Linked DNA regions of Homo sapiens: regions 1 and 3 are each linked to region 2. The links come from fine-mapping of genetic effects on gene expression. A gene starts in region 2. Each other region holds a variant in brackets. All regions are shown on one strand. Distances are from middle to middle. Region 1 overlaps SPON1 (spondin 1). Region 2 holds the start of SPON1 (spondin 1). Region 3 overlaps SPON1 (spondin 1).

Region 1 (7,811 bases), 56 kb after region 2:
ATCTTCACAAGCAATCTAGGAAAAGTGTTATGAACATTTTAGAGATGAAGGAAGAGACTCAGAGAGGTTATTTACTTCTTGCTCAAGCCCATACAGCAATGATTTCCCAAACCTGTAGGGTGTTTCTTCCTTGGGTGTTTTGTAGCGGGGAAAAAGAAAGTCAAAGCCTGTTTCCATTATCGTGGATTTTAGGGAAAGGGGAGTATTAAACATAGTAATCAGAGAAGCCTGGTTCTTCTGAAGCTTCTGACTGTCATCAAATTGGAAGTTAATGCTGGGGGAGAAGCTCTGTGTGAAGGACCCACATACTCCCGTCTCTGGCCCAGCCCAAACTGCCTTGGCTTACCTGAGGCTGCCAGTGACTTCTGGCTCCTAGATCTTCATCTTGCAGCTACGTGGACAAGGTGGGTGCAGCCTGGTGCCTTATGTCTGTGCTGTAGCTTCTTAACAGCAAGTGAGATGGTAGCAGGCATGGAAGGCCATCGGTGGGAAGGGAAAGGAGGGGTTGTCATAGACCAAGGAGGGTGACCACAGCATTCCACAGATTCAAAAATGCCCATTTTTAACATTGTAGCATTTTACAAGTCAGAATGCATCTTACAATTGATATGTACATGAAATGTAGGATTCCTTTTCCAGATAAACTGTTAGTGCATCATTGATACCTCTTATACGCAATGGCATCCTGGATTCAAGGAACTATGGCAGGTTTCATCTTATGTGTCAATTCTGATCAAGTGGTGGAGACTATCTGGAGTTTGGGAGGAGAAAGGTCTGGTGCTATGTCCATGGCAGTGGTGAACAACAATAAACTGAGTGGGGCGTCACTGTGCATGAGAGATGGCATAGAATCCTACTGTCGGGCATTTGCGCCTTCATCCAATATCTTTGGTATTAAATGGAGGAGCACCTGCCATATCTTCAACTGTAAACTAAAGGACACAAAACACAGGAAGCATTTCCAAGGGACCAGGTCAGAGGCCTGCCTCTTCTCATGCAGATTTGTGACTGTGGCCTTTTTAAATACTTTTTTAAAGTATTAATTTAATTATAAAAATAGTACATGCATGCTATAATACAAAGATACAGAGGTACATGAAATTTTAAATGTCTCATTGTATAGATGTTACTATTACTGGCCTTATAGATTTTTACCCTTCTTCTATTGTAAACAAATGTGTCTTTGTGTATGTCTGTGCACGTACACACACACACTTGTCTGTCTATGGAGAAAATCTTAACAGAATTGTGGGCAGGCCTCATTTTTAATGGGCACAACATAGTCTACTTAACCTCTCCCCATTGAGGTTTGGCTCAAAGCTTATTTCTTGTTTCTTATGAGTGTAAATGCTCAGAATAACCTGTATGACCAGTGTCATAGTCCATTCATGCTGCTATAACAAAATACCACAGATTGGGTTATTTATAAAGAATAGAAATGTATTTCTCACAGTCTGGAAGCTGAGAAGTACAAGATCTAGGTGCCAGCAAGTTTAGTGTCTGGTGAGGACTGTTTTCTGCTTCCAAATGGTGCCTTGTTGCATGCTCTGGAGGGGACAAGCACTGTGTCCTCAGGTGGTAGAAGGGATAATATAAGCAGTTTCATCTCTTAAGACCTTTATAAGGTCACTAATCCCATTTATGAGGGCTCTGCCCTCATGACTTAATCACCTCCTAAAGCCTCCACCTCTTAATAGTATCACATTGATTATTACTTTTCAACATATGAATTTTAGGGGACATTCAGACCATAGCCACAAGGAATGCTTTACTTACATTTTAAATTAGTTTATTAAGATGGTTTCCCAGAAACATAAACATGCTTAAGGTTTCTGATAATTTCTGAATTGATATGTCAAAGATGTGGTTGATTGACACTTGTTAACTATGGGTAAATTTAAACTCAGTAACAAAGCTTTTGTGTTTCCATTACCAAAGAACAAGAAACTATTGGAGGTAAGTCATTGTATATTTATGTTGGCTGTTTGGCGATGTCCTTGTTAGGAATGGAGTGAGTCATGCTGCCTGAATGCAGTGTGTCAGAGGCTCAGGGTCTCAGGGACAATATCCAGGCTCTAGGTCACCTTTGACTTTACCTGCCTTATCTGACCGGCTCATAGCAGGCTGGGGTAAGTTCATGTTGCCACGGATTCTAGGAGGGATCTCTGAAGTGTCAAGTACTGCCTTTTCTTCTCATGGTTCAGTGCAGATGGCCGCAGAGGGCAGGATAGTTGATGACTTATTCTCTGGAGTCATCCAATCTTGGGATTAATTCTTTTATATTCATTTGCTGGGAAGGGAAAGGAAGAAAAGGGGAAGAAGCTCTGATGGCAGTTCCCTCTTCCTAGATTCCCTGCTGGTGGTGCCTCAGGAACTTCCTTTCTTTTTGGGTATACCCTCCTTTCTTTCCTTCCTTTCTCAGTGTTTACTATTTGTGGGAGCATGTACTAAGTGCTACGCACTTTACACATGTGATCTCATTTAACTCAATCCATTTAACTGAACTGCCAAGAGGCTAAGTGGCTTACAAAACCAATTCTATGATCTTTACATTTTTACTTGTGCAAACGTGTGAGAAAGTTTAACTGGTGAAACATCTGTCAGGTGAAGACTGATGTGCTTTCTATGGGTCAGCAAGAAGGCAGAAGTATATCCATCTAAGTATACATTTATATCAAAATAATTTATTTGGACCCATGTAACTATAGCATTGATTATTGTTTTCTAAATTTGATTAGCAGTCAACTGAACATACTATTCGTTTATTGCAATTGGGTACTTTAAAACAAGTTCTCAGAGTAAGGGTTTTTTTTCTGTTATATTTTTATACTCACATTAAAAAAAGAAATATATACCCAATCTTGTTCAAAAAGAATTTAGGATAGCTCATATCTGGTTTAATCTAAAATTAATACTTTAAAAATGGAATTTTAAAATGATAATTTTAGTAGTGTTTTGGAGACTAAAATTGGGAAAGTCAAGAAGCTGGCTGTTGACTCACACTATTGGTTTCACATTGCAGAAGATAATGTGCCATTTTTTTCATTTCAATTCAGGCAACGCTTCCTGATCACCTACTAAGTGCTGGGCACTGCATGTGGCCAGTAAGACCTCCATGTGTTGCACAGTAGCTGACAGCAGATCAGCAGACTTTTGCTACCAGGATGGGCACAGGGCACTCTAACTTTGCAAAGCAGCCTTTAGGGCCTCTTTTCAGGTGCCCAGAGATTGCTACGGTGTAAGGGAAACTTTTGTATGTTCCAGGGCTGGTGTCAGGCCCATTTTCATTGGCA[A/G]TGACCTTCCTGGCATATGCTGCATTTTCCTATGTTGGTGAGAAATTTAATTTTACTCTCCAGAGGTATTAGGGAAAATATTACAAACCACTTTTCAAGTTGAGGTTGAACAAATGACCAGGTATAACTGGTTCAGGACCCCAAAATAATGTCATTGTTTCTTTAAGCATTGTCATTGAGTTGAAAGCCATGGAGGTCACAAATAAAAAGAGTTAGGCTCATATTCTAAAGATCCCCAGCTCTTTAATTTAAAAAAAAATCAGTGTCAAAATGTTTTGTTTTAATTACATCATTGTTTTCAGACTATGCTTTAAAGAATTTTAAAATTAGCTTAGTTTTTTAGTAATCTATGAATAAAGCTTCTCTTCTCGTGTGCCTGCCTTAGAGATGGACTGACTTTTTTGCAAAATGCAGCTTTTATTCTTAGAGAACTTAGTAGTGCTTAAACTGTGTTCATATTCATCCTGTCATTTGAGCTCTGTGACAGCCTTGTGATGGAGACAGAACTGGATTCTTACCCAAATTTTACAGATGAAAAGTTAGAGGTTGAACAACTTGCCTAAGGCCACCTTGCCTAAAGTAGCAGGGCCATTTGAGCCCTAGTTCAGGCATATTTCATTGGGCACACTGTCTTTCCAAATATTTGCAAAATTGGACGCTTGAATAGAAGACCTTCACCAAAACTCTGCTTACTATTTGGCTATTTCAAAAGTTAATTGTTGGATTTGCTGGGACTACCTAAGTGTCTTGAAAAATATGTGCATTCTGATAATGGATGCAATACATCAACTAAGTATTTTTAGGCCCCTTGTGTTTTTACACTTGTTACATCTTTGTAATGTATTGATCAAACTAATGAGTCGGACTATTTGGAATGAGCAGCTCAGTATTATTTAATGCTGCATTTCTTGTATTTTATTGATCACTTGCCTGATTAATTAACTTATACTATACTTGGTTTTAAGAAGACTTTGCTGGAGCTACTGAACAATTCTTTAGCTCACTTTTCTTATGAAATAACCATGGAACAAGGTACTATTTAGAGTCTTTGGGTCTTGTTGCGAATTTGTGGGTAGAAAATGTAAGATATATTTCAATACATGGATATAATCCATTTACAAGTAGCTAGACGGCCTTTGTTCAAATTTGACCACCTTTCAGACAATGAGCTTCACCTCTCAACTCTGCAGGAAGCCCTTAGTAGGTCCCAAATGGAAATAGGATCTACTCTGTCATAACTATCAAGCCTGAGATCTTAAGGCATCCAGGTAGTCACTTAGGAATGAAGAGGCAAGGATAGATTCAAACAACATTTCAGAGGTAGAAATTGGCTTGTTCAGTTTAGAAATGACATGGAAATTTCTAGTTTAATGATGCCAGTAACTGAGAGACCAACGGAGGGGCAGGGGCTGAAGGAAGGGGCTGGATTGAGTTTGAAATATTGTATCCTTCTCCTGAGGAGGTTATAACTTGGTTTGGGAATGTGGAGTTGACATGGATGAGAAAAGATAAGTAAACAAATGACTAAACTGCAGTATGATAAGGCCAGAGACAGAGATCTGCAGAGCATGCTGGGAGAACAATTTGTGGAGGTTGAGAAGTCAGAAAAAGCCTCCTAGTGGGCCTGACACATGGGCTACATTGTAGAAGAATTAATTAGGGAGAGTGTAGCACAGGGCATTCAATGCAGTAAAGGCAGTCTATACAAAGGCTCCAACGGTACAACAAGAGCCAGTAGACCAGGCAAGTTCAGTGGGCTGGAGGTTTTAGGATGGTTGAAAGATTTGAAAAGAAGCAGCAGCTTAGTCATGAAGAGCCTGGTAATAGCAGCCAGCACTTGTAAGCATTTACTGCAAGCCAGGCATCGCAGAATAGTTCAGAATATGTTTAGAAGGTAGAATTGTCAGTATGTGGTGACCAGTTGGACATGGGGTAGAAAAGAGAAGTACAAGTCCAAAGAGAGTCCCAAGTTTCTGCCTTGACCAAGACAGAGTTTGAATGAGGAGCCTATTTATGAGGGAGAAGGCTGATGAGCTCCATTTGGGACCTGTACAATTCAAGGTTCCTTTAGTCATCCATAGTATTTGGATGTATGGAGTCTGAGACCAGACTGCCCCGGTTTGAATCCTAGCTCAGCCACTTAGGAGACTTATGACCATGGGTAAGTTACTTAATCCCTCTGTGCCTCAGTTCAGTTTTCTCACTAATAAGATGGGAATAATGGCACTTAACCTTATAGAGTAGTTGTGATATTTAAATTTTACATAAAATTATGTATATTAATTATATATTATACGTAATTTTATAATGTGTATAATTATATAAATATACAATGTATATAAAATTGTATATGATTATATATATAATTTAGGTTCTAGATCATAACAGGCACTTGATAACTTATTGTTATTAATTATTATCATTATATAGTTCTGAGACTCAAGGACCTGGGTTGACACCATCAAGGTAGAGTATTATATATGATCATTATGTATGATCATTATGTATCTCTTAGGAGGTATTTGGCTATAAGAAACAGAAAATCCAATCATGGCTTTTATCATGGGTTCTTTTATTGTTTAGCAAGGAGTTTGGAGATAAATGGCTTCCACATTCTTTTAGCAGCTCAGTGACATCAGGTCCCTGGACTAGTAGCTCTGTGATTCACTCAGCCTTTCTCTTCTATTCCATAAAATGGCTGTGCTAGCTCCTCCGGTTCATAAATTGGCCACACTAGCTCAAAGCATGTCACCCTCACCAACAGTGTTCTAAATAGGAGAGAAGGAGGATAGTGGGGGAAAACACTCTCCTCATAGGCCACTACCCCTTTTGTCAGAGAGGAAAATCCCAGAAGCCTCCTGGCTGATGTTTCTGTACCTCTCATTAGCCAAAAGCAGGTCACATGGTCACCTGAAACTCAAGGAAAGGAACAGGATAGCCATAATTGGTTTAGACCAGTCATGATTCAATCTCTGGGGTTGGACACTGTAAATCCTAAACAAATAGGGTCTTTTAGCAAAAGAGAAGGAGGGAATGGCTGTTGGGCCAGTAATTAAGAATGTGCACCACTCTAGGGAGGGAGGACATTTAGAGAAGAGGACAAGAGGAGAACCCAGGACTCCATGACATTCATAGGTCTTATAGGGAACAGGGGCCAGGGAAGAGATTTCAAATGCCAAGGAAATAGGAGAAGAAATCCAGAGAAGCACCCCAAAGGGAAGAGCTGGGGGAGAGGCAAGTCTACAGGGGTACATCTGGCAGAGCTTTGAGCAGAATGAGGCTGTAAAAAGCTGTCAGAGTTGGCAGTGAGGAGGTCAGAGTGACCATTGCCAGTGCAGATTCAGTGATGCCAAGGGTTAAGAAGAGAATGGTGATCTCTATCATATGCAGTTGGTAGGCGTGCAAATTAATCCAAAATTTGTATTAGTTTGGCACTGTGTGCCAAAATTTAAAATGCTCATACCCTTTAACTCTGAAATTTCACTTCTAGGAATTAATTCAACTGGCCAATTTAGACAAGTGGAGGCTGATGTAAGTACGAGGATGTTGATTGCAGCCTTGTTTGTTATAGCAAAACAAAAAAAGAGGGGTGATTGATCTGATCTGAAAGCCCATCATATAGGATTAATTATAATAAATGGTAGTACATCTTGGCAGTGGAATACCAGGAACAGTAGAAAAGAACTGAAGTTCTGGAGTCCCACAGCCAGGGTTTAAATTCTGGTTCTGCCATTTACCAGCTGTGTGACCTCAGCTCTCTGTGAACATTTCTGGGACTCAGTTTCTTTAGCTGTAAAATGGGATAATTATAATACTAACTCATAGAGCTATAGTGAGGAATAAGGATGCAGATATAAGTGAAATACACTGAATATTTCTGGCACAGATTATTATGCAGTAATTTAAAAAGATTTGGCAGATTTACATGTATGTTTAAAAGATTGTTTATAAGATGTTAAGAGAAAGAAATGAGGTTACAGAATATCACGATATAATGATCCAACAGGTGGTTTTATCTGGGAGGTAAAATCCTGGGCACAATTCACTTTCTACTTTATACCTATTTGTATTTTTTACCTTTAAAACAAGGCATTTAATGTCTTATTCACCTGGCCAATTATAAGCCACAGGAGGGAAGCTACCATTTCTGTTTTGTTCACCACAGTATATCATAATATCTGGCATATTACAAGCAGATGATAAATATGTGTTGAATGAGTGTATGAAAAAATAGTAAGTTGTGTTTAGAAGGAAATTCCATAGGCCAAGAGTTCAAAGATGCAGTAGTTCTGCACCAACAAGTCCCCGGGTAGACCTCAGGGACAAGGCTGCAGAAATGAAGCAGAAGTCAGGGCTGAGGGTTGTATATTGGTCTTCAGTATGAATGCCTCAGCTTCTGAAACAGCTCAGGTTGCAAAACCTGAGGAAGAAGAGGGAAAACAAGCCCCAAAGCACCAGGATCCAGTCCCTGGTTTTGTTCAGCACTTCCCAAACAGGCTGAATCTGAGAGCCAAATCA
Region 2 (7,811 bases):
AACACAGCAGGTTCTGAAGAAATATCTTTGTAATTAATGAATGTCTTTTGCTTTTAGGATTTTTTTTTTTTTTTTACCGTATGTACGTATGTATTCAGTTTCCATAACTTAGTCTTTAAACTTGCTGGCTCACCTGTAGACAGCTTCCAGGCCTCCTCACCACAGATTACAATAGATTATTCAGTGCAATTCAACTCCTTCATTGCCTATCTGTTTTCTTTCTCTAGAAATCCCTTTCTATAAAATGTCCAATTTAACTCTATATATAAGAGAAACAAAAACATAAAGTTTCTAGACTCTTTTTCTGAATTAATAAAAGTAACAATAATAACTGGGTGGGGTTATTGTGACCTCATTGCAGTTTACAAATTATCTCAGTTACCCATTTGTTTCTCAAAATCCCACAAGGTAGGCAAGATGGGTATTACTATGTCCAATTTTGCACATAATCCGTGTAGATAGGTCCTGTGACTTTCCAAGACTGCACAGCTTCACATGGTGAAAACAGAAGAGCCAGCCTGGAACCCATGTACTTCAAGTCTGAATTACGGTCTAGGACGACGGTTCCTTAAACTTCAGTATGAGTTTTTCTTCAAAGTACAGATTTAGTAGGTCTGGGATGAGGTTTCGGAATCTGCCTTTGAAGCAAACATCTGATGCTCATGTTTCAATGACCATACTCAGAAAAACACTAATCTAGAAAATCCTTTTCCCCCTTCTCTCTTAAAGCGGGGAGAAAAAAGAGGGAGATCTTACCTCCTATGAATCAAAGGACTTTTCTCGCCTTGGAGAACTGGAGCCCCCAGCTCTTCTCTTCTGCGACCTACCCACACACACTGATAAAGTTAATTATCTGCCCTGGCTAAATGACTTTCCTTAGCAACACCCTAGCAACTGACATCAGCTCTGCCTTAGGCTACAAAAACTGGAAGGAGATTTCTTGAAGTCCAGTATATTTTACAAAAGAACAAAACATCTGAACAGGAAATTAAGGGGAAAGTAAACTGGATTCATTGCTAGGAGATGAGAAATAGACACATGAAATAGTTCATGACAATCCACTGGACCACAGTAGTCAAAATGGGAAACTTTTTCTCCTCCTCAGTTCTACTGAAGTCCACAGGAGGGGAGACTGCAGGATCTCATTCTATGGAGGAAAATTTAATCAGGCAGGAGGAGGGAGGGCATTCCAGGCCATGAGAAAGCTGTAAGCAAAGGTGCTGAGGCAATACTGAAGTGGAGGACACGGGGAGCCCAGCTGGGTGGTGCTGGGAGCTCAGATTGGGATCTATGACCAGGCATGACCAGATGGACACAGTGAGACCAGATTGTGGATGGCCTTAGAGGCCAAGTCTTAAAATTTGGGCAGAGTCAGAAGGCACTGAGGGTAGGCTTGTTAAAAAGTTTTTATTCAGAGAAAAAATATTTATGGAACCCCTACCAGGGGCCGGGCACTACGATGTGCACGGAAAATACAGTGGTAAGCCCCATAGACATCCCCTACCCTTCTGGAGCTTAGAATTTAGAATGGAGACAAATACTGAACAAATGTAAAATTTTAAACATCAAACTTATAAATCAATGGGTCATTATAAATCTTAATATTAAAAGAAGCCAGGTGTGGTGGCTCATGCCTGTAGTCCCAACACTTTGGGAGGCTGAGGCAGGAAGATTGCTTGAGCCCAAGAGTTTGAGACCAACCTGAGCAACATAGGAAGACCCTGCCTCAAGAAGAAAGAAGAAAGAGGAAAGGAGAAAGGAGAAAGAAGAAGGAGGAGGAGGAGAGGGAGGAGGAAGAAGGAAGAAGAAGGAGGAGGAGGAGGAGGAGATTAAAAGAAAAGGTACTCATGAGCTTCAGCAGAGTTTTGGGGGCTGGATCTATTCTAGGAAATCAGAAAGGCCTTCTTTGGGGAGGCAGTTTTGCACTGAGATCTGAAGAGTACATAGGAGTTGGCCAATGGAGAGTGGTGGCTAGGAGAGACCAAAGAGCATGATAGGATTCCAGGCAGAGAGAACAGCACAGGCAAAGCCCATGAGAGAAGAGCTGCATGGCTGGAGAAGCAGATCAAGCAGAGCCTTGGAGGCCTGGCTGAAGATTCTGTCTTTATTCTGAGAGCCCTGAAAAACCACCAAGAAAAAATGTTAACCTCAGGATTGACATTCAAATCTGCATTTTTAAAAAGATCACTTGGGCTTCAGTGCAGAAGACAGATGGAAGGAGAGCACAAGTAGACAAGGGCAACCCAGTTAGGAAGATGAGAGAGGATGTCAACACAGACAGGGGTAGTGGTGGAGAAGAGCGTGAAACTTGATGTGGTGATGGATCGGATGAGTGGAGAAGACAGCAGAGGTCTGAGTGACAGCCAAGCTGGTTTAGGAAAACCTAGCTCATGTAGTGGGATTGGAGCTTGGTGAGCTGGTTAGAGCCTGCCGTCATAGCCCAGATGATAGGGCGAACACTGTGTACTGGAAAGTACCTCATTTGGTGTTGGGGATGCCTGTTTTAAATCCTGGCTCTTTCCCTTAATAGCCATGGAACATTACCTCAGCAGGTAATTTCATAGGCTCCTAATCTGAACAATGGGAGTGCGGAGGTGAATTGGGACTGCCTACTTCCCATAGTTTTCCTGTCAATATCCAATAAAAAGTTAAATATTGCATTCCTGCCTACTTCATGCCCACCCATCTCCAACTTAGATTTGAACCTTTTGTAGATGAATAGAGGTTCAAGAGCACAGATTTGAGCTTTCAGACATAAAATAAGCTTTGTGAAGACAGGGGTCACAATTTATTCATTTCTGTAGTTTCCTGCCCTCTGAGATAAGATCAGGTACACTTTCAAGAACCACTTATTTTAGTTTGTAGCATACATCACAATTATAATTTTAAAAGATTCATATAATTATGTATTTAATATTTGCCTTTGCCACAGGCCTGTAAAATCCTCAAAGGCAAGTAACATATCTGTGTTTTGTATCCAAGCACTGAGCACGTGGAGGGTCTTTGTCATGAATGAATGGATGGATAGAAGGATGCATGGATGGATGGATGGATGAATTTTTGTTCCGTCTTCTACCTACCGGTCAGCACAGAGTCTAGCTCCAAATCTACACTTAATGAAAGTTTGCTGGATGAATGGGACCGTGCAACTTGGAGTGCAGCATGAGCTCTGAGCCAGTCGAGTGAAGATGCAGACAATTCCCTCAGCACTCAGACATGGATCTGAGCCTCACCTCAAAAAGGAGGGCCGATCAGCTGGATCAGGTGCTGCTAGGGTCAAGAAGGGCTAGGGATGAGAGAAGAGCATAATTGGCTTCAGCAAGGGGTTACTTTCAGGTGACCTCTGAGAGAAGGCGTCCAGTTAATAGTGGCAGTGGGAATTCCAGCACAAGCACTAAGGAGTAAGTGGGCAGGCAGGGAGGAATGGAGATCTCCCATGCACCTAGCGCCCTGGGCCTGTTTGTAGCATTATGAAAGAGAAAACCCTGACCTGGAAAGCAAAGGAGATTGCTTGCTAATTGTAGGCACTTGAGGTGTGTCGAAGGCCCTGGGCAAAGAGAAGACGAGGAAACCAAAGCTTCTGAGGGCACCTGGGGAGGGATGTTTGTGTGCACTGAGAGGCAGGGGGCTTATGGTATCCCCAAGCGGGTGAGGGAGCAGGCGCCACTAGAGACCAACTAGAGTGTTTTATATGGGTCATATCATTTACTTCTAGCATATCACCCCACTACCTCTAAGAAGGATGTACTGGCACCCACCCCCACTTCCTTGTTCTCCAGAGCAGGAAACAAGCTTGGAGAGTGCGATAACTAGCCCAAGCTTCACAATGGGTGAGTGGCAGGACTGAGGTTTGATTCGGGTCTCTTCCCAGAGAGACACTGGGAGAGATTCTTGCCCCAGGTCTTTTCCCTTCAGGCCCTCAGGCTCAGCACCTCTCTGAACATCTGTCCCTGGGGAGTGAGAATCTGAACTAAAATGTAAGCCAAGAAAACACAGGCTCTTCATTGAATCTTTGGAAACTCCTTTCCTGGGCTGTAGGAGGACCTTCCTGAGCCTTAGGCACTTTTGCCTTTGCTGGCTCTTTCCTCCAAGTCAAGCATATTTTATGACTGTGGAGGTATAAATACAAATATATTAACATTATATAGTAAAACATTTTGTTTGACATAAATTTTTTCTTCTGATTTTTACAGAAAACATTTTCATAGATCTCCAAAAGTATCGTGGGCCCTAAGCGCTGTAGCTAAGTCGTTTCTCCTTTCTCAGCCTCCAGTCTGACATGTTCCACTATGGCCTTGGGAAGAGCAATGGGCCCGGAGTCGCCGCATCTAACCCTGCTGTAACTGGTCGCAAGTCACAGTTTGCTCATCTATAAAGTGAGCGAAAGTAATGTAATCTTTATTGGGAGTAGGGAACATGAAGGCGAGTCGATACAGTAAGTAAGCCGCCAAGCATATTGCTAGGCACAGAGCAGGTGTGCAACAAAAGTTATTTCTCAGGCTTTCCCTCCTCTGAGCGCCGTCCTCCAGAGGGTCCGGAGTGTAGCTGGGGGTTGGAGCAGCAGCCTCCTAGGCGATGGGACAGAGCCCACAGGGTCCGGTATGCCACGGTTTCTTCGTCAGACCCTGGGAATCCAACGTCGCAAAATAAACACGGCCGCGCCGCTAATCGCCAGTTCGGAGGAAACAAAACAGCGCTGCGCTGGGGGATCTGGGCAAAATCAGCCCTCCCTCCTCCCGCTCCTTCGCCGCGGCCCTCCCCTCCTCGCGCTGCTCTCGTTCGCTTGGCTCAGCTCAGCTCAGCTCAGCGCAGCTCCGCGGCCGCCAAGCCGAGGCGGGCACGGTCTCCGAGTCGCGGACGCCAGCTCCGAGCTCCCTCTCTCCGCCGCGCCTCCGCCAGGTCGCGCCTTCGTCGGGACCACTTCGGGCAGGAGTCGCGTGGCGAAGGCCTGCGGCCGCGGCACAAAGTTGGGGGCCGCGAAGATGAGGCTGTCCCCGGCGCCCCTGAAGCTGAGCCGGACTCCGGCACTGCTGGCCCTGGCGCTGCCCCTGGCCGCGGCGCTGGCCTTCTCCGACGAGACCCTGGACAAAGTGCCCAAGTCAGAGGGCTACTGCAGCCGTATCCTGCGCGCCCAGGGCACGCGGCGCGAGGGCTACACCGAGTTCAGCCTCCGCGTGGAGGGCGACCCCGACTTCTACAAGCCGGGAACCAGCTACCGCGGTAAGTGGCCGCCCGGCGTGGCATTAGGAGAGCGGGACCCGGTCCCCGGAGGGCGCCGACCTCGCGGTGCCGGAGGAGGGCGCGCGGTCTCCGGGCGCGTGGCGCGGGTGCAGCCCGGCAAGGGCCCTTCTGTCCTGGCTGCCCTCGGCCCTTGCAGTCGCGAGCTCGGCGCGGATCATAATCCAGCGTCCCGGGCCGTCGCGGGGGCCGCAGCCAGGAGAGGCACCCCGCGTTTCCGACGCGCGGTTCCCAGGCGGAGGATGTAACTGAGCCACACGTCACGCCGGCCTGACTGCAAGGGAGGCTCGCTTCTCCCCCGGCCGTCTGCAGGAGGGAAGTAAAACTGCCTTTCTCCAAATCGGTCTGGAGGGGACCCAGGCTTCTCTTGGTCGGGTCCCGGGCAAGGCAGCCACTCCAGCTTTCCCCGCTCAGTCCCTGAAGGAGAGGGTACCCGATTCTCAAAGACTGGCCCTGGGCGGGACAGCCACTCCGGCTTCCCTGGATAGGTCCCTTCAGGAGAAGGGACTTTGGCTTCTCCCTAACCGGTCCCGGGGTGCGGGAAGGAGGGGCAGGGACAGCCTAAAGCTCCTCGAAAGGGTCCTTGGAAAGAACCCCAAATTATTCTCTCGTGGTCCCAGACGAGATAGAGTATCTTGGGTTTCCAGAACAGGTTCCCAGTGGGGACAGGGTCCTCAAAGAGCTTGGGGTAAGCTCCGAGCTGCAAGGGGAATTGGATGAAGATGGAAAGAGAAGCCCCGATGCCCGAGGCCTGCTCCCTGGAGGCCGGGGAACCTTGGCTCCGGCAGCTCGGAGTCTCCACGTCCCAGGGATGTCGCGCCTACGCCGCTCGGCTGAGAGTGGGGTTTCGGGAGCTCAGGGAGGAGGTGTCCAAGCAGGTGAGAGCCTCCTAGGCGGGACAGGCAGTTCGACCAGCACCGATCTGAAGACGCCTGACTCTGTCCCCACGCCCGCCACCTCGCTCCTCAGCAGGGTCATCTCCCCAGACATCGTTTCCCCGTGCAGCAGCAGCCGCTCTCCGGGTGGGGGACAGGTAACCAGGAAGGGAAGCGAGCCTGTCTGGCCTCACCTTAGCTCCCGCCAGGGAGCGTGTCCTCTCACCCTCGCCCCTTCATAAGTCAGCTCTGGTGCTAAGCAGGGATGAGCGGGTCACTGGGGCACCTGGTGGGGCAAATGGGCTCCCAGCTGCTGTACTTTCCTCCTCGCCTTCCCAGTTCCCCAGAGAGCCTTGGACGGAAGCGGTGGGAGCAACACAGGAGAAAGTCTGGGGCAGCGTCAGCGGGCGCCAGGGTCACGCCGGAGACCAAAGCCAGGGGCCACCCTTCTTGGAGCGCTTTTCCCCCTTTCCCGGGTTTGTGTCCCCGACTTTCTCCACCCGGAGCTACCCAAAGCCGGCTCCTTGGTGCCCTTGGCACCTTGGCGTGCTGAGCACTTTGCGAGGAACAGTCTGACCCCGGCGCGCAGCTCCGCGGGATCCTGGGTACTCCACGAAGAAAGATTCTGGGCGGAGAACACCCCGCCCAGCCCGGGAGGGAGCGCGCGGCTTGGCACCGCGGCTAGAGCGAGCCGCGCCGACGGGCGGCGACTGCCACTCGGTGCAGCCGGGAGGCGGCCGATCCTCCCTGTGGACCGCAGGGAAGCGGGTATGACTTCAGTGGCCTATTCGGCCCTCCCCAAAACTGAGGACCTGAGTTCACAGGGGAAACTGTCCCCGCTCCACGTAGCAGAGAAAGAAGTGGCTCTGGAGTCCAACAGACTTGGGTTTACTCGCTGTGTGACCTTGTGCAAGTCATTTAATTTCTCTGCACCTATTTCCTAGCTGGAAAAAAAAAAAAGCTGTTTATCCACCCTCTCTTGGTGGTAGGGAGTAAATGAGTTTACAAAGGTGAGTGTGCCTGAGCTAAAAGAGATTCCTAATAAGCCTAACAGTTGAATGTGAGGCCTTTATTGGTTTACTAATGGAGGTAGGTTCTTGATCAGATTTTTGTTTTTGAAGAGTGTTGTGCGTTTGAAAGCAGGTTTCCTCAGCTCTCCTCCAGTCCCATTCATCTACCAGTGGTTATTTGGGTCCTCATGAATTAATTGAATGAATGAATGAGGTATTTTTTCATATCAGGAGCCTTGCCTAAGACTGTTGCTAATGCAAGCCCAGGAAGATTTTTTCAGTGACTTAGACTAGTCTGAGGTTCAGGCCAAGTGTACCCAGCGTCTCTTTTCACACTAATCCTCCGTGTTTTAGTTGAGCATTGGCAGCTGGTGGCCCTAGCACTGGGAAGGAGATACAGCTGGTATTCACGGGGCCAAAGAGGTTTCAGAACTACCTAAACGTCCAGGGCCAGCAGGTGGGGAACTGGGACTGGATAGGGAGTGTCCTGGACTTTCACCCTACAGGCTACTCCTGCCTAAACAGCCATCTGGACTTTGACACCCCAACTCAGGCTATAGATTGGGCAATCATCTTTTCTCCCTTCTTATGGCTAAAAGACCTTGGAAGAGATCTTGCAGGAACCATGCTGAGGTTTTCCAAGTAAATATCCTGCAATTAGCAAACCTGATTCTGCCACTCAAAGTCC
Region 3 (7,811 bases), 290 kb after region 2:
CACAATAAAACCTTGGGGTAGGATGATGATGCTCCCATTTGGCAGATGTAGTAATTGCAAAGAAAGGTGAGGTGGAAGCCCTCATCACATAGCTATTAAATAAACAGCTGATTCGAATCCAGCTCTGACTGTCACCAATGCCCTGGGTTCTTTCCTCCACACCATGCTGCCTCTCCAAATGTAGAAAAAGGAAACATTTCTCTGGGTCTTCATATCTGATGTGAATTGTCTGTTCATAACTTTTCTTTATCTAGTGGGATCATTGTCTTTTTCTACATATTTGGATTAACTCTGTAGATAATATAGATATTAACACTTTGTCAGTCACACTCAATGGAGACATTTTTTGCCAGCATGTCATTTTTCTCTCCAATTCAGTACTGCTGTTTTCATTTTACAGAAGGTCTTCGTTGATAGATAATTCAATTCTTTTCTTTATAATTGCTTTTATTGTTTCAAAGTTGAAAAAATTAATATTTCTCTAGTAGATCTGAAAGCTTTATTTTTTTCTATGATCTGGTTATTTTCTATTTGACTCTGGGTCTGTTTTTTTTTTTTCTTGTGTGGTATATTAAATGTGAATCCAGTTTTTTTTTTATTACAGTTAACTTAGCCCAACCCCACTTGTCGCACAATCTTTCCTTTCCCCCTAATTTGAAAAGCCTATTTTGTATAGTCCTTATCTATAGTTTCTGGGATCTCCAGTCTGTATTGCTGATTTATATTTCTATCTTACCTGAATATCACGCTATTTTGTCTATCATGCTTTATCATATACTCTGGTATATGGTATGGCTAGATCAACTCTCTGCTAGAAAACGGATACAAATCTAAGTCCCAGGTAGAAAGATGAAACCAAATTAACAAAATATATCTTGGAAGACATGGCATATACAAAAGCATAAAAATTTTTATGACAGTTTGAACAAATTAAAGCACTCCAGTCCTATCTAGCATTTTCTAAGGAAAACTCATATAGATTCTTATTCATTTAATTATTTTTATTATAGAATAAATACTTTGAAGTGATGCTTAATTAAATTTGAAGGTCAAAGGAAATACAAGAGCTCCATGTTCATTTCTTAGATTAAGTCATTTACTTCAACAAACATTTGAAGAGAATCCATGGCATGCCAAGTTCTAAGCCAGACATTGGGATATAGCTATGAGCACGGCAGAAATGGTCCTCACTCTATTGGAACCTGATGGGAAAGGCAGATATTAACAAAAAATTCCAAAGCAAGAGTGAGTTCAGCATGCTATGGGGAGGTAGAATAGGAGTTCTAAGCAATTTGGGGAGAGGTCAGGAAATACCTCCTCCAGGAAATGTTACATAAATGGGGTCAAGGAGGGATTCTCCAGTCAAGGATAAGAGAAAGCTGCAGGGCATATCTGAAAATGCTATCAAATTGTTCTCAGGCCCTTATAGATTCAGATTTACTCTATCACCCAAGATAAGTCAGCCATGTGACCTCATAGTCAGGAATTGGCCGCCCCACGTTTCCCACACCTTGAAACACTTACCAGGGTCTAGAGGGTATCTCGCTTCAGCTACAGATTTGGATACAACAGATTGGGCCAAAATGCATTTACTGAGAATGATTTCCACAAGGCCTTGGTCTCAGATGGTTACACCCATTGGCTGGGCAGGTTCCAGGGTAATGTGTTAGGGTGGCAGTTGGTTTGGTTTCTACAGCTCTGGATTAGAACTGGTTTTGTCCCCTTAGATTGTCATTATGAATAGTCACCCATGGGGTACAGGATATGAATGACTAATCTGGCCCCAAATCACCTACTTAGGAAGACAGGAAGGCAATAGATGGAGCGGTCAGTCTCTATGACAATGGAAGAGGAAACCTGCCTCCCAGGGGACTGCTGGACCACCCCAGAGGACAGCTGCACCCAGGTGCCAGTGCTGTCTGCTCAGCAGTTACTAGAAGGCAGACCAGAACCCCGTCCTGTGAGTCCCTAGGCGAGGTAATGCCACACCTCCATAGACTGCAATCCTTGTGTGAACCAGGTCTTTAAAGAAGCTGCTAAAATCACTGACCTACATGCCAGAAAATGCACACGTGGGAAAAGGAAATTAAATCCCCTGATTTGTGCCTAAGTAGCTGATGATGTCATTGCAATACTTTAGCAGTTTATAAAGACTTCCTAATAAAGCATCTCATTTGATCCTGACAGCAACACTGCAGGTATGTATTGCTAGATGAAGATATTGAGACTTGAAGAGGGTGAGCAACTTGCCCAAGATCTAAAGCTAGAAGTGGAGGAGTTCAAGTCATCATACGCATATTTGTTCAGTCGGCCCACTGGACACCTAGGTCCTGGGGTACAGCTATGAAACACAGAGTTCCTTCAAGGAACTCCCGGTCTAAGCTGGGGAGAGGGAACAGTGAGGAAGTGATTACATTCATGGGGTCTGGCTATGGAGACCTGCGCAGAGTGGGAATCCAGCGCTATGTATCTGCCTCAGCCGAAGGCAAGACCTGCGCAGAGTGTGGGAATCCAGCGCTATGTATCTGCCTCAGCCGAAGGCAAGACCTGCGCAGAGTGTGGGAATCCAGCGCTATGTATCTGCCTCAGCCGAAGGCAAGACCTGCGCAGAGTGTGGGAATCCAGCGCTATGTACTTGCCTCAGCCGAAGGCAAGACCTGCGCAGAGTGTGGGAATCCAGCGCTATGTACTTGCCTCAGCCGAAGGCAAGACCTGCGCAGAGTGTGGGAATCCAGCGCTATGTACTTGCCTCAGCCGAAGGCAAGACCTGCGCAGAGTGTGGGAATCCAACGCTATGTACTTGCCTCAGCCGAAGGCAAGACCTGCGCAGAGTGTGGGAATCCAGCGCTATGTACTTGCCTCAGCTGAAGGCAAGACCTGCGCAGAGTGTGGGAATCCAGCGCTATGTATCTGCCTCAGCTGAAGGCAGGCAGAAAGGCTGCTGGAAGAGGTGACATGACCTGAGGCTTGAAAGATGAGTGGGCCCAGCATTCTCAAGCTTGAGGTGTATTACAATCTGGAGGGATTATTAAAACAAATTGCTGGGTCCTACCCCAAGTCTCTAATTCAGCAAATATAGGGTGGGGCTCAAGAATCTGTATTTCTAACAAGTTCCTAGAGGTTGCTGATGCTGCTGGTCCAAGGACCACACTTTTCCAATCACTGAAGAGCTTGCCCAATAGATGCAAGTACAAGTGGAACCTGCAGCTAACCTGCAGGTAGACTGGCCTGTCAGGGCCCAGGGAGCTTCTTAGGTAGCAGGTAGTGTGGGATAAGGGAGGGGGTGCATGGGAGGCAGCACCAGGACCTTGTCAATCGACGGATGCCAAAGCCAAGGCTCAGGCCAGGTTCTTCTCCACTCCTGTGGCAGAACCTAGACTGGCATCAGGCTAAAATGGAAAGTCCATTCAGGAAGGCTTTTCCTCCCACCTGTCCCCTTTCTGATCTCCATACGATCCTACAGTACTTCTCTCAGTAACACTAATGGTAATAAGAGCTCTAGGGCCAGGCAATGGGCTAAGTACTGTCTGCAAGCTAGCTCATTTGAAATTCACAGGAACCCTTTGGAGTAGACGTATGTGATCACCATTTTAAAGATTTGGACACTGAGACGCAGAAAGGTTTGATAATCTGCCCAAGGACACACAGCTGTAACAGGTGATACCAGAGCCCAAGGGGCCCAGTTCCCCAGGCCCCAGTCGGGTCTGCAGTCATTGCTTTCTGGTGCCAGGTGAGGGCAGCCAGAAGCAGCTGGTCCCAACAGAGGGCACAGGGACTTCCAGACAGCTGAGGCAGACCAGCTGCCAGCTGGACTGAACAGAACAGTTGGTCTCTGGCCAAGGATTCCCCATGATTAGCAGCCTTGGGGTGCAGAGTCAGGCCAAGCTGCCTTCAAGCCTCAGCCCCCTCCTAGCTGTGTCTATTAGTTCATTAACCACTTATTCACTTTCATGGCCTCTCTATGAGACAGGATAATAATTCTAACCCCACAGGATTGTCATGAGGGGAAAATGAAATAATATGGGACTGCCACCCGCTGTGTGCTTTGCGAATGTGACTCTTTCCTTTCCAGCCACTCTGAGTGGTTGCTGCCATGTATCTCACATGGTCCCAGCCACTCCTGAGAATCTGTGTGACACAAAGAGAGAGGTTGAAGAGCGGCCTCTGATAGCTTAGACTCAGG[A/T]TGTTATTCCCAGCAACTGGGGGTGTCGGCCAAAGGTCTCTGACTCTACAGCTGGTCCCTGCTTCCCAGCTGTGAGCTGATGGGTACAGTCTGGCGCTGGACAGTGCCTGCTATTGGCAGCCTTCTGAGGGCAATAGAAACAGGAAGCTGGGGGAGATGACCCCTCTGATGGGAGGTTGAGGTGCAAGGATCACTTGAGCCCAGAAGTTTGAGGCAACAGTGAGCCATGATCACACCACTGCACTCCAGCCTGGGTGACAGAGCAAGACTCTGTCTCTGAAAGAAAAACAAAAAGAGAAACTGGATAGGGTGGTAGTATATGGTTCTCTCCACATTTGTTCAATGGATGGGCTCAGGACAGAGAAGGGTATAAACCCACAGTGGCCAAAGGCAGAATTCAGTGGGAGACCACGAATGTGGATACTCTCTGTCCCTCTCATTCTTCATAATCCAGGCAGATTTCCCTCAGAGTGAGGACCAACCCCCAGAACTCTAATATAATGGTCTCTGTATTTCGTTTCCAGGAGAGCAGCACCTTCAGCTGAATTTTCCGTGGACAGAACGCGCCATTTAATGTCCTTCCTGACCATGATGGGCCCTAGTCCCGACTGGAACGTAGGCTTATCTGCAGAAGATCTGTGCACCAAGGAATGTGGCTGGGTCCAGAAGGTGGTGCAAGACCTGATTCCCTGGGACGCTGGCACCGACAGCGGGGTGACCTATGAGGTGTGTGTGTGTGCCTGGAGTGGTGAGTGGCTCCTTGCCTACCCGCTTCCTGAGTGTCCTGGACACAGAGGGGATCTGTCCCAGGCTCTGTCCTAGGTGAACTTTCAGTCTGGCTGGGGAGGCTGGCATGGTCGCATCATCACATATGGTGTAATTTGGGCTCTGGGAACTGTCTGTGCAGTGGCCAGGAGAGCACGGAGAGGGAACTGCTAAAGAGCAGTTCCCAGGTGAGCAGGGGACAGCATTCCAAAGCCATGACTGCAAGAGCGAAGGTTTCTGGACAGCTGGGCTAAGGAGTTTGCATTCTGTCCTGAATGTCATATTTCTCTGATATGATCTATTGCATTGAAATCTGGAGCCATCAGAAAACCAATGGGAGAACAATCTAGAACAGACATCTGCAAACTATGGTTTGGAAGACAAATCTGCCCTACAATGTGATTTGTCAATAAAGTTTTCAAAGCCAGTTACACTCCTCCAAGTACATATTATCTGCGGCTGTTTTCTCACTACCACAGCTGAGTTGAATATTAGCAACAGACACAATATGGTTCACAAAGCCTAAAATATTTAGCATCTGGCCCTTTACTAAAAAAGTTTTCCAATGCCGGGTCTATTAGAAAGAGTTTGGGATTCAGGCCAACCTGGCTCAGCCGTTTCCTAGCTGGGATGGCCTCTCTGAAACTTGGCTTCTTCATCTTAGCACAATCCTACCATGGACATGGAAGAATTTTAAAATATAGTTCTAGAAATTTCTCAGCACAGTATGTGGCATGAACACAATTCCATAAATATAAATAGTAGTTATGCTTGTTAAATTCCTATCAAGGACTTTGCTCTGATCCATATAACAAATGGCTTTTGTGGGTTTTCCCAATTTTATTTCTTACTCTCTACCTCTGTATGTTTTCTTGCAGTCACCCAACAAACCCACCATTCCCCAGGAGAAAATCCGGCCCCTGACCAGCCTGGACCATCCTCAGAGTCCTTTCTATGACCCAGAGGGTGGGTCCATCACTCAAGTAGCCAGAGTTGTCATCGAGAGAATCGCACGGAAGGTACTGGGTTAGAACCCACTCTGGCATCGACCTTTCCCGGTAGGAGTGCCAGGGAGATTGTACACCCTTCTGCTCTAGAATCATAGAGTCACTGGCAGAAAGCACCTCAGGATATGGAATTCCTGGGCCTCCCCAGGTTTCTAACATGCAAATTATTTCATAAGATGAAAATAAGCAGGCCAGGCACTGTAGCCCATGCCTGTAATCCCAGCCCTTTGGGAGTCCAAGGTGGGCAGATCACCCGAGGTCAGGAATTCAAGACCAGCCTGGCCAACATGGTGAAACCCCATCTCTACTAAAAATACAAAAATTGGCTGGGCATGGTGGCAGGGACCTGTAATTCCAGCTACTCGGGAGGCTAAGGCAGGAGAATTGCTTGAACCCTGGAGGTGGAGGTTACAGTGAGCCAAGATTGCGCCATTGCGCTCCAGTCTGGGTGACAAGAGCAAAACTCCATCTCAAAAAGAAAAAAGAAAAAAAAAGAAAATGAGCAAAATTAACTCAGCAGTGAGGCCCAGTGCTCAAATGAACAATTTGATCCAGGCAAATTGCTTTCATTGTGAGTTCTGCAATTGATTACTAATATCTGCCATGGGCCAGGAACTGGGGAGTGGTGGTACCCAAGTTATGTATTTATCATCCCTGGTTAGCCATTCCTGCTTTCTTGGCATTTCTTTCTCAGGCAGATTGTAAATGTTGGTCCAGAACTTTGCCATGGCATACGATTTGTATACAGAATGGCGATTAGATTTTAGTCCTCTTTCACCTTCCCCCTACACATTCCCTTCTTTCTCTCATGTGAGCCCTCCAAGTAAAATTCCTTTTTCAGGGTGAACAATGCAATATTGTACCTGACAATGTCGATGATATTGTAGCTGACCTGGCTCCAGAAGAGAAAGATGAAGGTACGTTGTTTTCTTTTGTTGCAGGTGGCAACATAAATTGACATAACCCTTTGAGAAAGCAATTTGCTAACCTGTTTTAAGAACCATAAACCATGTGCTTTGACTTGGTAATCATATCTCTGAGGATTTCTCCTCAAGAAATAATCAAAAACAAGGCCAAGGTTAGGCCCAAAGCATAAGGGAATTGGTGAAGATATGACATCAGAATATATACTCAACAACATCAGGCCTTTAAAACAATCATGTAAATCTCATTTTAATGGGCTTCGCAGGATTCAGACCACTCTCTGCTTCGATTCTCAGGCCAGCCTATGAGGCAGGTGTGGATACATTCACTTTCCTAGCAAGCAAAGAAAGGCCCAGATCCTACAATCAGGAGGGAGCGACAGAGTCATGGTTCAAGCTCAAGTTTTCTTATGGGATCTGGAGCCAGACAACCTGGACTCTCAGTAGACATGTGATCTTGGGCAAGAAGCTAACCTTTCTGTCTCAGTTTCCTCAACAGTCAAATGGGGATAATAAAAGAACTTGCTTCATACAGTTGTCAGAATTAAATGGGATAAAACATGTAAGGCTCTTAGAATGGTGCTGGTACATGATGAGTACTCAATGAATAGCAGCTGCTCTTATTCTTACCATGACAACTGTGTATGGGATCATTGGGAAGATGAAGCCATGGCATGTAAATAAGCCTTGAGCTTTTCAAAATTACCTACAATGAGCCTGCATGTGTCTGGAAACAATGCCAAGATGAGGGACTGAAAATGAGAAGACGTTCATGTGTTGAGAGGAAGGGATAATAAGAATCATTCTGCTTATTTAGATTAGATATTTATTAGCAAGATGTTAAACTATTATCTTTAAAGGGAAGTGGATGGCTGCTTCCATCCCAGGAGCACCCAGGCTCACTGAAGTCAGTCTGGCAGCATGGCTTTTCTT

Evidence for each region. PIP is the estimated chance that this variant, and not a neighbour inherited with it, causes the effect. A credible set is the group of variants that fine-mapping cannot tell apart.
Region 1: its variant is the best candidate, but not a certain one, in a credible set for the expression of SPON1 in testis (GTEx, PIP 0.64).
Region 3: its variant is the best candidate, but not a certain one, in a credible set for the expression of SPON1 in lung (TOPMed, PIP 0.62).

What each region holds. Positions count from the first base shown.
Region 1 is chr11:14,013,781-14,021,591 of GRCh38, forward strand. All of the region lies in intron 2 of SPON1 (spondin 1), which reads left to right. Among named protein-coding and RNA genes, the nearest start is that of SPON1, 55 kb to the left of the region's middle. The variant A/G (reference allele first, on the strand shown) is at 3,294.
Region 2 is chr11:13,957,923-13,965,733 of GRCh38, forward strand. SPON1 (spondin 1) reads left to right here and starts at 4,801. Exons shown (of 16, transcript NM_006108.4): 1 at 4,801-5,220. The coding sequence starts at 4,983. It overlaps LOC124902637 (a long non-coding RNA gene), which reads left to right and starts at 5,235. Exons shown (of 2, transcript XR_007062602.1): 1 at 5,235-7,123.
Region 3 is chr11:14,249,821-14,257,631 of GRCh38, forward strand. SPON1 (spondin 1) reads left to right here. Exons shown (of 16, transcript NM_006108.4): 8 at 4,708-4,909; 9 at 5,827-5,967; 10 at 6,797-6,872. Among named protein-coding and RNA genes, the nearest start is that of RRAS2, 110 kb to the right of the region's middle. The variant A/T (reference allele first, on the strand shown) is at 4,184.